2 separate regions of the Homo sapiens genome follow, and region 2 is linked to region 1. The links come from fine-mapping of genetic effects on gene expression. A gene starts in region 1. The other region holds a variant in brackets. All regions are shown on one strand. Distances are from middle to middle. Region 1 holds the start of TSEN34 (tRNA splicing endonuclease subunit 34). Region 2 holds the start of LOC124904768 (a long non-coding RNA gene).

Region 1 (5,358 bases):
GAGGATGATGGAGTATGAGCCTCAGCTCCTCTCCTTTGAGAACCTAGCAACCCAGACTCCAGCCCCTTCCTCCTTGGAGGAGACAGGAATCCACCCCCAGCCCCTCCTTTGAGCGCACAGGCCTCCAGCTCTCCTGTCCTTGGAGAACCCAGGAAAGTGTGGGGATCTCCCAGCACCCAAGCCCCTCCTTTGCGAACGCAGAAATCAAAGCTACTCCCCGCACCCATACTGGGGACCCAGATTTGAAGACGCCCCTCTTTTAAAAACCCAGAAACGGCACCCCTCCCGGACCCTTCCTCTTCGACAGCCCAGGAATCTAGACCTCCGAGCCCCCTCTTCCAGCGAGGATCCAGGAACCCAGACCCCCTCTTTGGATCCCCCATCCCCCGGCCCTTGTGAAACCAGATATCCGGACCCCCCAGCCCTTCTCCTTCGAGACCACCCAGAGGAGCCCGGGTCTCCAACCTGCACCTCCTTCGGAGCTCCACACCCCTCTCCTACTGAGAACCCGGGGATCGAACACCCTCCCCTCCCCAGGCCCAGGCCCAGGCCCAGCCCCAACCCGTCCCGCGCACCCCAGCGCATCCCCGGCAGAGCCACAGGCGGTTGCGCCAGCCCCGAGTTCCAACGCGCCTCCGGGGCCGCCCCGCACCCGCCAGCCCGCAGAGACCCTGCCGCCGTGTAACCTCGCCTCGCCACTGGGCGCCGCCACCCTGGCCCACCTGAGCTGCTCGCCGGGCAGGAGGCGGCCGAGCAGTCCCAGCCCGCTTGCCGCCGCAGCTCCGGCCACGCCTCCCCCGCCCAGCGCGCCCCCGCGCCGCCTGCTCCTTCTGGGCGCCCGCCGGGCTGCGCAGATCAGGCCGGGGAAGAAGCCACGGTCAGGGCCCCGGGCGGGCAGGGAAGAAGCCCCGGAGCAGAAGCCGAGAGCGCGAGTCGGCAACGGGATTCGAGTCCAGGTCCACACTGGGATCCGAGCTCCGAGTACGTGAAGGGGCGGGCCTTCGGGCTCGGAACAAGGAGGAGCCAAAAGCTTTGGACCCGAAGGGGAACAGACGGGCTCTGGAAAGGAGGCGGGGTCTGGAGCTCGGCGTGAGGAATGAGGCGGGGTCTCCCTTCGGGTTCCTTCGGGCACAATCGGGAGCTTGAGTTCTCCGGAAGCGGGGCCACAAACTTCGGCTCACTTCGGCAATAGTCGAGAACGGAGAGCTGAGGCCACTGTGGGCGGAGCCACATGTTTCGGCTTTCTTCGGAGGTAGTCGAGTCCTTAGGGTCACTGTTCCGATGTGGGCGGGGCCACAGACTCGGCCGGATGTGGGTGGGGCCACAAGCTTCGGTTTACTTCGTAGATAGTTGGGTACAAGTGACGCTAGGATGATAGGCGGAGTCAACAGGTTCGCCAGACACCCATGAGTATTTACAAGGGGGCGGGGCGAAAGCGACTTGCCCTCAAAGGGGCGGAACCCCGAGGGCCGGCGTGCGCCTACGGGACCGGGCCAGGATGACGATCCTCAAGTTCCCAAGTAGAGGAGAGGAAGCGGCAGAGGGAGGTGCGCTCAGTGGGGCGGAGCCAAGGTGGCCCCCGCGGGAGGAGGGCGGGGCTTCGGTCCTGCGAGGGGCGGGACCTGACTTCCCGCGGCGCTGATGGGGCGGGATGACGAAGTTGACGAGGGTGTCGGCATGAGGGGGTGGAGCAAGGAGCGCGTGGCGCGGTGCGCAGTGGGTGGCTCCACCTCGACTGCGAATTACTGTTTATGAGGTGACTCGCTGGTTCTATCGGTGGACAGTGGGACATTCTGAAGGGAGGCAAGGAGGCGGACTGAGCGCTCCCAATTGGGGTGAGCCCGCCCGAGCGGAGAGTGGACGGCGGGTGTCCAGGGGGCGGGGCTTTCGGCTGTGGGGTTCGGTCGTAGGGCGGGAACTCCCCAACTGGGGTGCGCTGGCGCTCGGAGGGGGCGGGGCCACAGGCCGCGAGGCTGCCGGGAGCCGATGACGCCCGAACGCCGAACCTATTGCGTCCGGGAGGAGGCGGGGCTACGGATTCGGCCGAGCCGAGAACACCCGAACGTCAAATTGCTGGCGTTCGAGAAGGGGGCGGGGCTGCGGATTCGGTGGAGCCGAGGACGCCCGAACGCCGAACTTCCTGTGCTCGGGAGGGGGCAGGGTTTTGTACTGTGGGAGTCTGAGAGCGAGGAGGTCCGAAAGCCGAATCACAGTCGTTCGGAAAGAGGAGGAGCGAAGGCTCGAGCGTCCGGAAGAGGGTGTGGCCTCGGCGGTGCCTTAGCCTCCAGAGCTTCTGACCGCTGACGGGAACACCCGAAGGGGGACGCCCACTTTGCAAGAGGGTGGTGCCAAAATGGACCTTTGTAAGGGGGCGTGTCGCCGCGCTTGCGGAGGTTTGTTTTTCACGCTCCAAGGCGCAATGGTAGGTACGGCAGTGCGGGCACAGAGCGGGTGCCGACCGCAGGGTCACAAGGGTAGAGCGGGACCCTGGGGGCTTGGCGAGGGGAGAGGGTCGGGGGCTTGTCTCCGGCGTCTCGTCTCCGGCGGCCGCGAGGCCTGGTGGGATCGCCCGGGGGCGGGGCCTGGCGCTCGGGCCCAGCAGGTGGTGAACGGCGGCTGAGCGAGGCCCCGCCCCCTGAGGCCTAGGGGCGGGGCTTCGCCGAGACCCCGGAGGCTTTGGGTGCGCTGCAGCGGTCCGCGGCGCGCAGCTGTTTCGGTAACTGCTTTGCCTCCCGGCTCCCGCAGGAGGATGCTGGTGGTGGAGGTGGCGAACGGCCGCTCCCTGGTGTGGGGAGCCGAGGCGGTGCAGGCCCTCCGGGAGCGCCTGGGTGTGGGGGGCCGCACGGTAGGCGCCCTGCCCCGCGGGCCCCGCCAGAACTCGCGCCTGGGCCTCCCGCTGCTGCTGATGCCCGAAGAGGCGCGGCTCTTGGCCGAGATCGGCGCCGTGACTCTGGTCAGCGCCCCGCGTCCAGACTCTCGGCACCACAGCCTGGTAAGGGGGCGGGGCTCGAACTCGGGTTCGGTGGGAGCGGGACCTGGGAGTCAAGTTTCCTGGCTTCTGAAGGGACCATAAGCTTGGAGGTTCCAGCGAAGTGTGCTTCTCAGGCCCTGACATCCTTCAAGCGCCAGCAAGAGGAGAGCTTCCAGGAGCAGAGCGCCTTGGCAGCTGAGGCCCGGGAGACCCGTCGTCAGGAGCTCCTGGAGAAGATTACGGAGGGCCAGGCTGCTAAGAAGCAGAAACTAGAACAGGCTTCAGGGGCCAGCTCAAGCCAGGAGGCCGGCTCGAGCCAGGCTGCCAAAGAGGATGAGACCAGTGATGGCCAGGCTTCGGGAGAGCAGGAGGAAGCTGGTGAGCATGGGAGGTGGAGTCCAGGGACCACGGGAAGGAGAGGAGAGATCTTTTAGGAATTTTAGCTGGGAATCCAGTGCCTGGGTCTCCCTGAGGGTGAGAAGACTTTACCCCTTGAATTTACCAAACTCTTCTCTGTACTCCCCACCAGGCCCCTCGTCTTCCCAAGCAGGACCCTCAAATGGGGTAGCCCCCTTGCCCAGATCTGCTCTCCTTGTCCAGCTGGCCACTGCCAGGCCTCGACCGGTCAAGGCCAGGCCCCTGGACTGGCGTGTCCAGTCTAAAGACTGGCCCCACGCCGGCCGCCCTGCCCACGAGCTGCGCTACAGTATCTACAGAGACCTGTGGGAGCGAGGCTTCTTCCTCAGTGCGGCTGGCAAGTTCGGAGGTGACTTCCTGGTCTATCCTGGTGAGTATGGGTTGGGGCCTCTGGTTGCTGTGCCTTTCCATACGATCCCAATGTATTCTGCGTTTTTCTTTTTTTTTTTTTTTGTCTTAATAGAGGTGGGGTCTCTTGTTGCTTAGGCTGGTCCCTATTCCTGGGCTCAAGCAATCCTTCCACCTCGGCCCCCCAAAGTGCTGGAATTATAGGCCCAGCTGCATTTTTCTTTTTTGTCTCACTTTCTCTTAGCCTCTGAAATTCATAGACAGACAGGAAACATTTGGGAGCTCCCGAACTCATTGGGCAAGCAGTTTAACGACTTTTATTAAATGATTACTGTGATCCAGAAGATTCACTTAGAAGTAGTTAGACATCAGGCTGGGCGCAATGGCTCACGCCTGTAATCCCAACACTTTGGGAGGCCAAGACAGGTGGATCACCTGAGGTCAGGAGTTTGATACCAGTCTGGCCAACATGGTGAAACCCCATCTCTACTAAAAATACTAAAACTAACTGGGCGTGGTGGTGGGTGCCTGTATTTCCAGCTACTCGGGAGGCTGAAGCAGGAGAATCATGTGAACCCAGGGGGCAGAGGTTGTAGTGAGCCAAGATCGTGCCATTGCACTCCAGCCTGGGGGACAAGAGCGAGACTTTGTCTCAAAAAAAAAAAAAAAGCCTAGAAGTGGAATAGTTGTGTCCAAGAGCATCTGTTTTAGAGTATCTATAGTGATGGCTGAAATGATCTCAGATCTCCTCCCAGTGGTCGTTCCCGTGGCGTCCAGCCGTCTGCCATTGGTCACTGCTTCAGTGCCTCTCTCCTTCCCCCAGGTGACCCCCTCCGCTTCCACGCCCATTATATCGCTCAGTGCTGGGCCCCTGAGGACACCATCCCACTCCAAGACCTGGTTGCTGCTGGGCGCCTTGGAACCAGCGTCAGAAAGACCCTGCTCCTCTGTTCTCCGCAGCCTGATGGTAAGGTGGTCTACACCTCCCTGCAATGGGCCAGCCTGCAGTGAACTCCAGAGACCTAGGGGATGTGGCTGTGTCGGCAGCAAGAGCCTTTCTGGATGTTCCCCAGCTCTTCTCTGGGAGTCTAGAACATCCTCCTACCTTTCTCCGCGGTTAGTTTTTGATTCCAGGTTTTCGAACACTACATCTTTTTTATGTTCTTCCTTGTTTCAAAGCACTTATTGGCTGTGTTTTTGTAGTTACCTATTTTCACACTGTGAGCTTCCCGAGAATGGGGCCTGGGTTTGATTCATCTGTTTTCTACAGGGTTTAAGTCTCAGGAGGTCTCAATAAACTTGGTATATAAATGTTCATGATTTGAATGTTTGCGACAGTCCTGGAACCCGTGGATGGTCTCATCTGCATGTACAGGTGAGAAAAAGGCCTGGAGGAGGGGGACTGACTTGCCCAAAGTCACACACTTAGTAAATAGCAGGCCTGGCCTTTCAAAATTGGTTTTTCTGACTCCTAAATCTGCACTCTTTCTACCTCACTAAACTTCCTTTTGAAAAGATTTCTATGAAATTTCCCAGATGCATACAAACGTTATAAATAAAAATATAGGCTGGGCACGATGACCCACACCTGTAATCCCACAGAACTTTTGGAGGCCAAGGCA
Region 2 (5,358 bases), 28 kb after region 1:
GTACCACACCCGGCCTTTACGTCTGTTTTTGTTTTTTGTTTTTTTGTTATTAACTCATTGATTGTTGAGAAGTCTGTTGCTTTATTTCCAAAATGGGACGATATTAGTCATCTTTGAGTCAGGTGAGTCCCACAAGTTCCCAGCGTCTCCTCATGGTCTGTGTTAGGGGTCCAGGCTGACTGGGGTTCACTGGTGTCCACTGGGGGCAGCTCCCGTGCCTTCAGCAGTCCTGAGTCTCCTTCTGCTGAGTGTGGGGTCTGCGTACCCCCCGGGCTAGTGGATGGCCAGAGTGGCGTAGATGCTGGGCTCAGCTGGAGGTTCCCCTTCCTGGGATGGAGGAGGCTCAGTTGCCTTCCGTCTAAGGGTCAAGCTGTGCAGCTGGGCGTAGGTCACATCCTGGGAGGCTTCAGATGCAGCAGCCTGCAGCGGGGGAGAGTGAGAGGTAAGGAACGTGGTGGGGGTGGGGGAGGCCTGGGGGCCTGGAGAGGAAAGGACTCACCTCAGTGTCCATCTGCCTGTCCTCTTCCACCTGTCTGTCCTTTGTGTCCAGGAATTCCCCAGACAGTGAGGAGGGAGGAGAGGCCATTTCTCTCCTAGGACTGGAGTGTTTCACCGGGGCATACGTCACTGCCTGGGGGTCTTCATCGTGTGGGCTCTGCTGGAGAGAGACAGTGGTGGGGGGTGTCCTTGAGTCCCCCTGACCTCCTGGAGTCAATTTTCCTCACTGTTCCCGGGGTGATCCGATTACATCCCTTTCCTGATGGAATCTCAGGGACGCCCTAAGGCCGTGGAGGGTCTGGCCGCTCCCTCCCTGTGGTTCTGGCCTCTGCTCCTCACTCTGACCTTGCCCATTTGGCTGCAGCCTCACAGGCCTTCCTGCAAGAGCTCGCTGCTGCCTGGGGGCCTTTGCACGGCTGTTTCCTCTGCCTGCAGGGGCTCGTCCATCAGAGGATCATGTGCCCCACTCTGTCCAGGCTTCTCAGATGACAGCTGAGCAGACAGCCCTCCCCTTCCATTCAGACTGGCCCCACTGCCCCACACTCTCTGCCCTTTCCCTGGTGTATGTTCCTTACAGCACGTTGCACTCCTGGACACGATGCATTTATTTGCATTTTGTCTCCCACCGTGAGGTGAGCTCAGGAGGCGGGGGCGGCTTTGCTCCCTGCTGTGTCTGCAGCTCCCATGGGGAGCCCCATCCACAGTGAGCTCCCTGGGAACACTCGCTGGATGAATGAATGAAGAGGAGCCCAGGGGACGGAGGTGGTTCATTTATTCGTCATCCTCCTGAGGCCTGGGGAGAGCTCTAACAACCAGACGGCCAAACAGAGGATGAGGAGCAGGAAGGGGACCCGGGAGGAGGCCCACGAGGTCCCAGGACAGCAGAAGAGAGTGAGGTCACAGCAGGCGGGAGGCAGCATGCTGGACAAGGAGGGGTCCACCGTGACGATGCTGAGAGCCGGGGGAAGGAGGACAGAGAAGTCCTGCAGGATTAGATCTGGCACCAGGAGGCCTTTGGTGCCTGGGACGGGGCGGGATCTCACCTGACTGTCCAGCTCCACCCTGTCCTCAGACTGTGTGTCCTTCACAGCAGCATCTGCTGGGGCAGAGCAAGGGGTTCGTCTCCTGGTTCTCTGAGACCTCTCAGTCCTGCTGGCCCCCTGCCCTGCTCCCAGATGGGGCCACCGAATGCAGGGAGGTCCCACAGTGTGGGGCAAGACCATCTTCCACGGAGCCCCAGACCCTTCCCAGCCCCTCCCTGTTGCTACTGAAATTTTGGGACTCCTGTCTCTCCAGCACCCCCATTTGTCCCCTCTCTTCCTCTTACAGAGGTTTTCTTCCTGGACGTCAGCAGCTGGGCTGGACCTGGAGGAGGACATGGGAGTGTGAGGGGCAGTGTATGGGCTGTGGTGGGTGGGAGTCTGTGGTCTTTGGGGCAGAATTACCTCCTCAGCAGGCCCCTGTCCTTGGGCTCTGTCTCCGCAGCCCCTGCAGGACGCTGGAAATCAGTCTTTCTCTGGTCTGGGTGAAGATGGACAGAGTCTCAGCCCTGGGAACATTAGAACTCCCATTCTACACATGCAACTTGAGGGAAAGAAGGAAAACTAAAAATATTCCTGCATGGATGTTCCAAATATTTTATGAGATAGAAAAAAACTCCCATGAATACTGAAGTTTGTAAATGCGTATTGAAATTACGTGCCCCTGGAACCGGTTTTCTAAACTGACACCCCTGTGTGTTTGGGTTCCCTCTGGCTGGTGCCCTGAGCCCACCCTCGGTCGACCCATGGGTCCCCCGCTTCCCTACTCACCAGATGTCCTGTGTTTGCTGTGACGCTGACGGAGGAGGAGGAGGAAGAGGAGGAGGAAGAGCAGCAGGACGAAGGCCACCGAGACCCCAATCAAAACCTCCAGGTATCTTCCCAGACCTTGACATGAGGACGTCAGGAGTGGGAATGATGTCATTGATGTGAGCACCTACTGTGTGCAGGCGCGAGCCAGGTCTTTCCTTCGTGACCTCCAACCCTCACAAGCAGTCGTGCAACATGGAATTGCCACCCGTACAACCCATTTCACAGATGCACAAACTGAGGCTCAGAGCAGGGAGTCGCCTGCCCCAGGCCTCCAGCGAGGAAGCGGCAGAGCTGGGAAGGGAGCCCGGGAGTCTGACCTGCAGCCCTTGTTCCTGCACCAGAGCCGAGACCCGGAGCTGCAGGGAAAGAGCCTGACCGTCCTGAACCACGGCCCTGCTCCCCTCCCCTGCCCCAGGTCACCGTCACTGCTGCAGGTGGGACGGGACAGGCCCCTGTGGAATCGGGTCTGGGAGGTTCCCTGGGAGGCCTCCTCTCCCAGGAGGTCACAGCTGGGGGTCAGAGCTGAAAGGAACTTTCCCACCCACAGGCCTCTCTCCTTTACACTTGGAGAAACTGAGGCCCAGGCAGGGGAGGGGCCTGTCCACATCACCACCTCCAGAGGAGCCTGAACCTAGGACAGAACCCACCCCTGCCTCCCCTGGACCCCGCCCA[T/C]CTCCCACTCAGAGCCCCTCACTCACCATTCTGAGGGCCTGACCCTGGGGGGTTAAGGGGCTGGTCCTCAGGACCTCCTGGGTCAGGACAGGGAGGTGAAGGCTGGGGCTGTCTTGCCCCCCACATCAGCCCGGCTCCTCCTCCTGGCTGGGCCCCAACATCTCCCTCTGCCTCGACCCCCGCCCCTCACCAGCCCAGCCTCAGAGCCCCTGGGACACAAGCCCGTCCTTGAGGGGAGGGGAGTGGGATCCTTTGGGAGACTCAGACTGCCCTGGGGGAGGCGGCGCTCCCCAAGAGGCCTCAGTGACTCACCAGGTGTGGAGGGCGGCCCTGTGGGTGGGAGGCTGGAGCCTCCAGAGTGTCCTGGAAGGAGCACGGGAGGCGGGTGAGGGGCGGGGGCCGTCCATGGAGTGCACCCTTCCACTCCCACTCTCCTGCTTCCGCCCAGTGGATTCCCTGGAACCATCTCTCTGCCCACCTGGTGCCTTCTGCATGCCAGGCAGGGGAGAACGGGTGGCCACGCCTAGGAGAACCCCTGTTGGCCTCCTCCCCTCTGAGGGCTGGGTGCCCTCTGGCTAAGCCTCCCTCACAGCCTCCCTCGGTCCATCCCAGCCGAGAGCTCTCCTGGGGGCCTGGGCCGGAGCTGAGCCTTTGAGCTCAGAGAGGACGGGGTCAGCGCCCTCACCTGAGACCATGAGTTCCAGGGGCTCACTGGGGAAAGACAGCAGGTGGGGGTTGGAGCTGCGTGAGCCGTAGCACCTGTAGGTCCCCGCGTGGGCTGAGGTCACAGGACTCATGGGGAATTCAGCCTGGTACTTATGAGCTCCGTACATTGATCTCAGACGCAGTGGGGGATGGGCTGCCCCTTCTTTGGTCAGAAGGAAAGTGTCAAAATACCCCCGTGACTGACACAGCAGGGTCATGTTCTCTCCTGAGGCCACTGTGGGGCCCGGCTGTGCTGACAGGGAGACGGTGTCATAGATCTGTCCTGGAGAGAAGAAGGATGGGTGAGGGGCTGCCCCACCTTGCTCTGAGCTGACACCTCCCCAGGCCTCTCCCTGGGACCCTCAGTGTCTCTGTCCCTGTTTTCTCTGAGTCTCCCCTCCCCCCATCCCCTGTCTCTGTCTGTCTCTCCCTCCCTTGGGACCCCCACCCCTCATCCCGGCCATCACCACCTGGGCTCCCCCGGCAGGGCCTGTGCAGAGCCTGGGTCCCTGACTGAACCCGCTGGGCTCCTCACCTGTGATCAGGATGTCCAGGGGGTCACTGGGGGCCGACCACTCGGAGGAGAGGTTGTGTGCACCATAGCACCTGTACTGGCCCCCGTAGGAGCGGCTCACAGGGCCCAGGGTGAAGTTGGCCTGGGAGAGCCCAGCCTGGGGCTGCTGGCCAGGGCGCTGGAGGAAGTCACGTTCCCCCTCCTTATACAGAACAAATCTGTCGTAGCCGACATCAGAGCCACACTGGAGGGTCAGGCTCTGCCCAGGGGCCAGGACAGGGCCCTGCAGGGTCAGGAGGGAGGGCTTCCTAGACACGCCTGGAGGGAAAGAGGAGCCAGGACTGAGAGGGCTGGTTCCTCCCACGCCCCTTCCTTCTCCCGTCCTGGCCCTGCAGGTCTCACTGTCTCTCACGCTCTGAGTCTCTGACCCCAGGGCCTCCTTCTCACCCGGGGCTGTCTTGGAGTCATTTCAGAGGAGTGGGGTCTCCCTAGCCCTGGCCACTGTGCCTGATCTTTCCTCCTCTCCCTGAGAGCTGGGACCTCACAGCAAACACACCGATGCCTTCCTGAGTCCTCCCCTTCCAGGTGAACGTGGTCAAGGGCTCCTCCTCCCATGTCAGAGCCTCCCCATGGGGTCTCCCTCATGCCTTCAGCCCGTCCTTCAACACATCACTCTGGGTCCTTTCCAGATTCAGTCACCAGCCAAACTCCCCACAACCTGTCAGCTGCCCCGAAAGTGTGTTAGACAAGGCCGTGGCTCCCTCACCTGAGGGCAGAATCTCCAGGGGGTCACTGGGGTGGGACCACACCCAGGGGGTGTTTGTATAATAGTAATAGCATGTGAACCTCCACCTGTGGCTGGGGGTCACGGGGCCCACAGGGAACAGGGCCTGGAACCCCCCACTGTGGAGCTGCTGTGAGTCCAGGGTCCGGGGGAGCTGGTGTTCTCCTTCCTTCATCAGAACAAAATGGTGATATCCCTTCTGTGAGCCACATCGGAGGGTCATATTCCCCCCTGAGGCCACCACAGGGCTGGGCAGGGCTGAGAGGGTGGGTTTGTTGTAGAATCCTAGGAGAGAAAGAGGCACCGTGTTAAATGGGGCTCCCACCTCCCAC

Evidence for each region. PIP is the estimated chance that this variant, and not a neighbour inherited with it, causes the effect.
Region 2: its variant is fine-mapped to the expression of TSEN34 in whole blood (TOPMed, PIP above 0.99).

The regions. Positions count from the first base shown.
Region 1 is chr19:54,188,616-54,193,973 of GRCh38, forward strand. TSEN34 (tRNA splicing endonuclease subunit 34) reads left to right here and starts at 2,693. Exons shown (of 4, transcript NM_001077446.4): 1 at 2,693-2,992; 2 at 3,106-3,349; 3 at 3,501-3,758; 4 at 4,560-5,358. The coding sequence starts at 2,750. The coding sequence ends at 4,747. It overlaps MBOAT7 (membrane bound acylglycerophosphatidylinositol O-acyltransferase MBOAT7), which reads right to left and starts at 965. Exons shown (of 8, transcript NM_024298.5): 1 at 723-965. RefSeq lists enhancers at 293-978, 979-1,660, 3,629-4,145 and a silencer at 2,583-2,784.
Region 2 is chr19:54,216,820-54,222,177 of GRCh38, forward strand. LILRB3 (leukocyte immunoglobulin like receptor B3) reads right to left here. Exons shown (of 13, transcript NM_006864.4): 4 at 5,009-5,311; 5 at 4,264-4,560; 6 at 3,709-4,011; 7 at 3,336-3,386; 8 at 2,310-2,426; 9 at 1,944-2,019; 10 at 1,826-1,863; 11 at 1,542-1,594; 12 at 500-655; 13 at 1-420. The coding sequence ends at 274. It overlaps LOC124904768 (a long non-coding RNA gene), which reads left to right and starts at 2,076. Exons shown (of 3, transcript XR_007067339.1): 1 at 2,076-2,785. RefSeq lists enhancers at 66-902, 903-1,738. The variant T/C (reference allele first, on the strand shown) is at 3,024.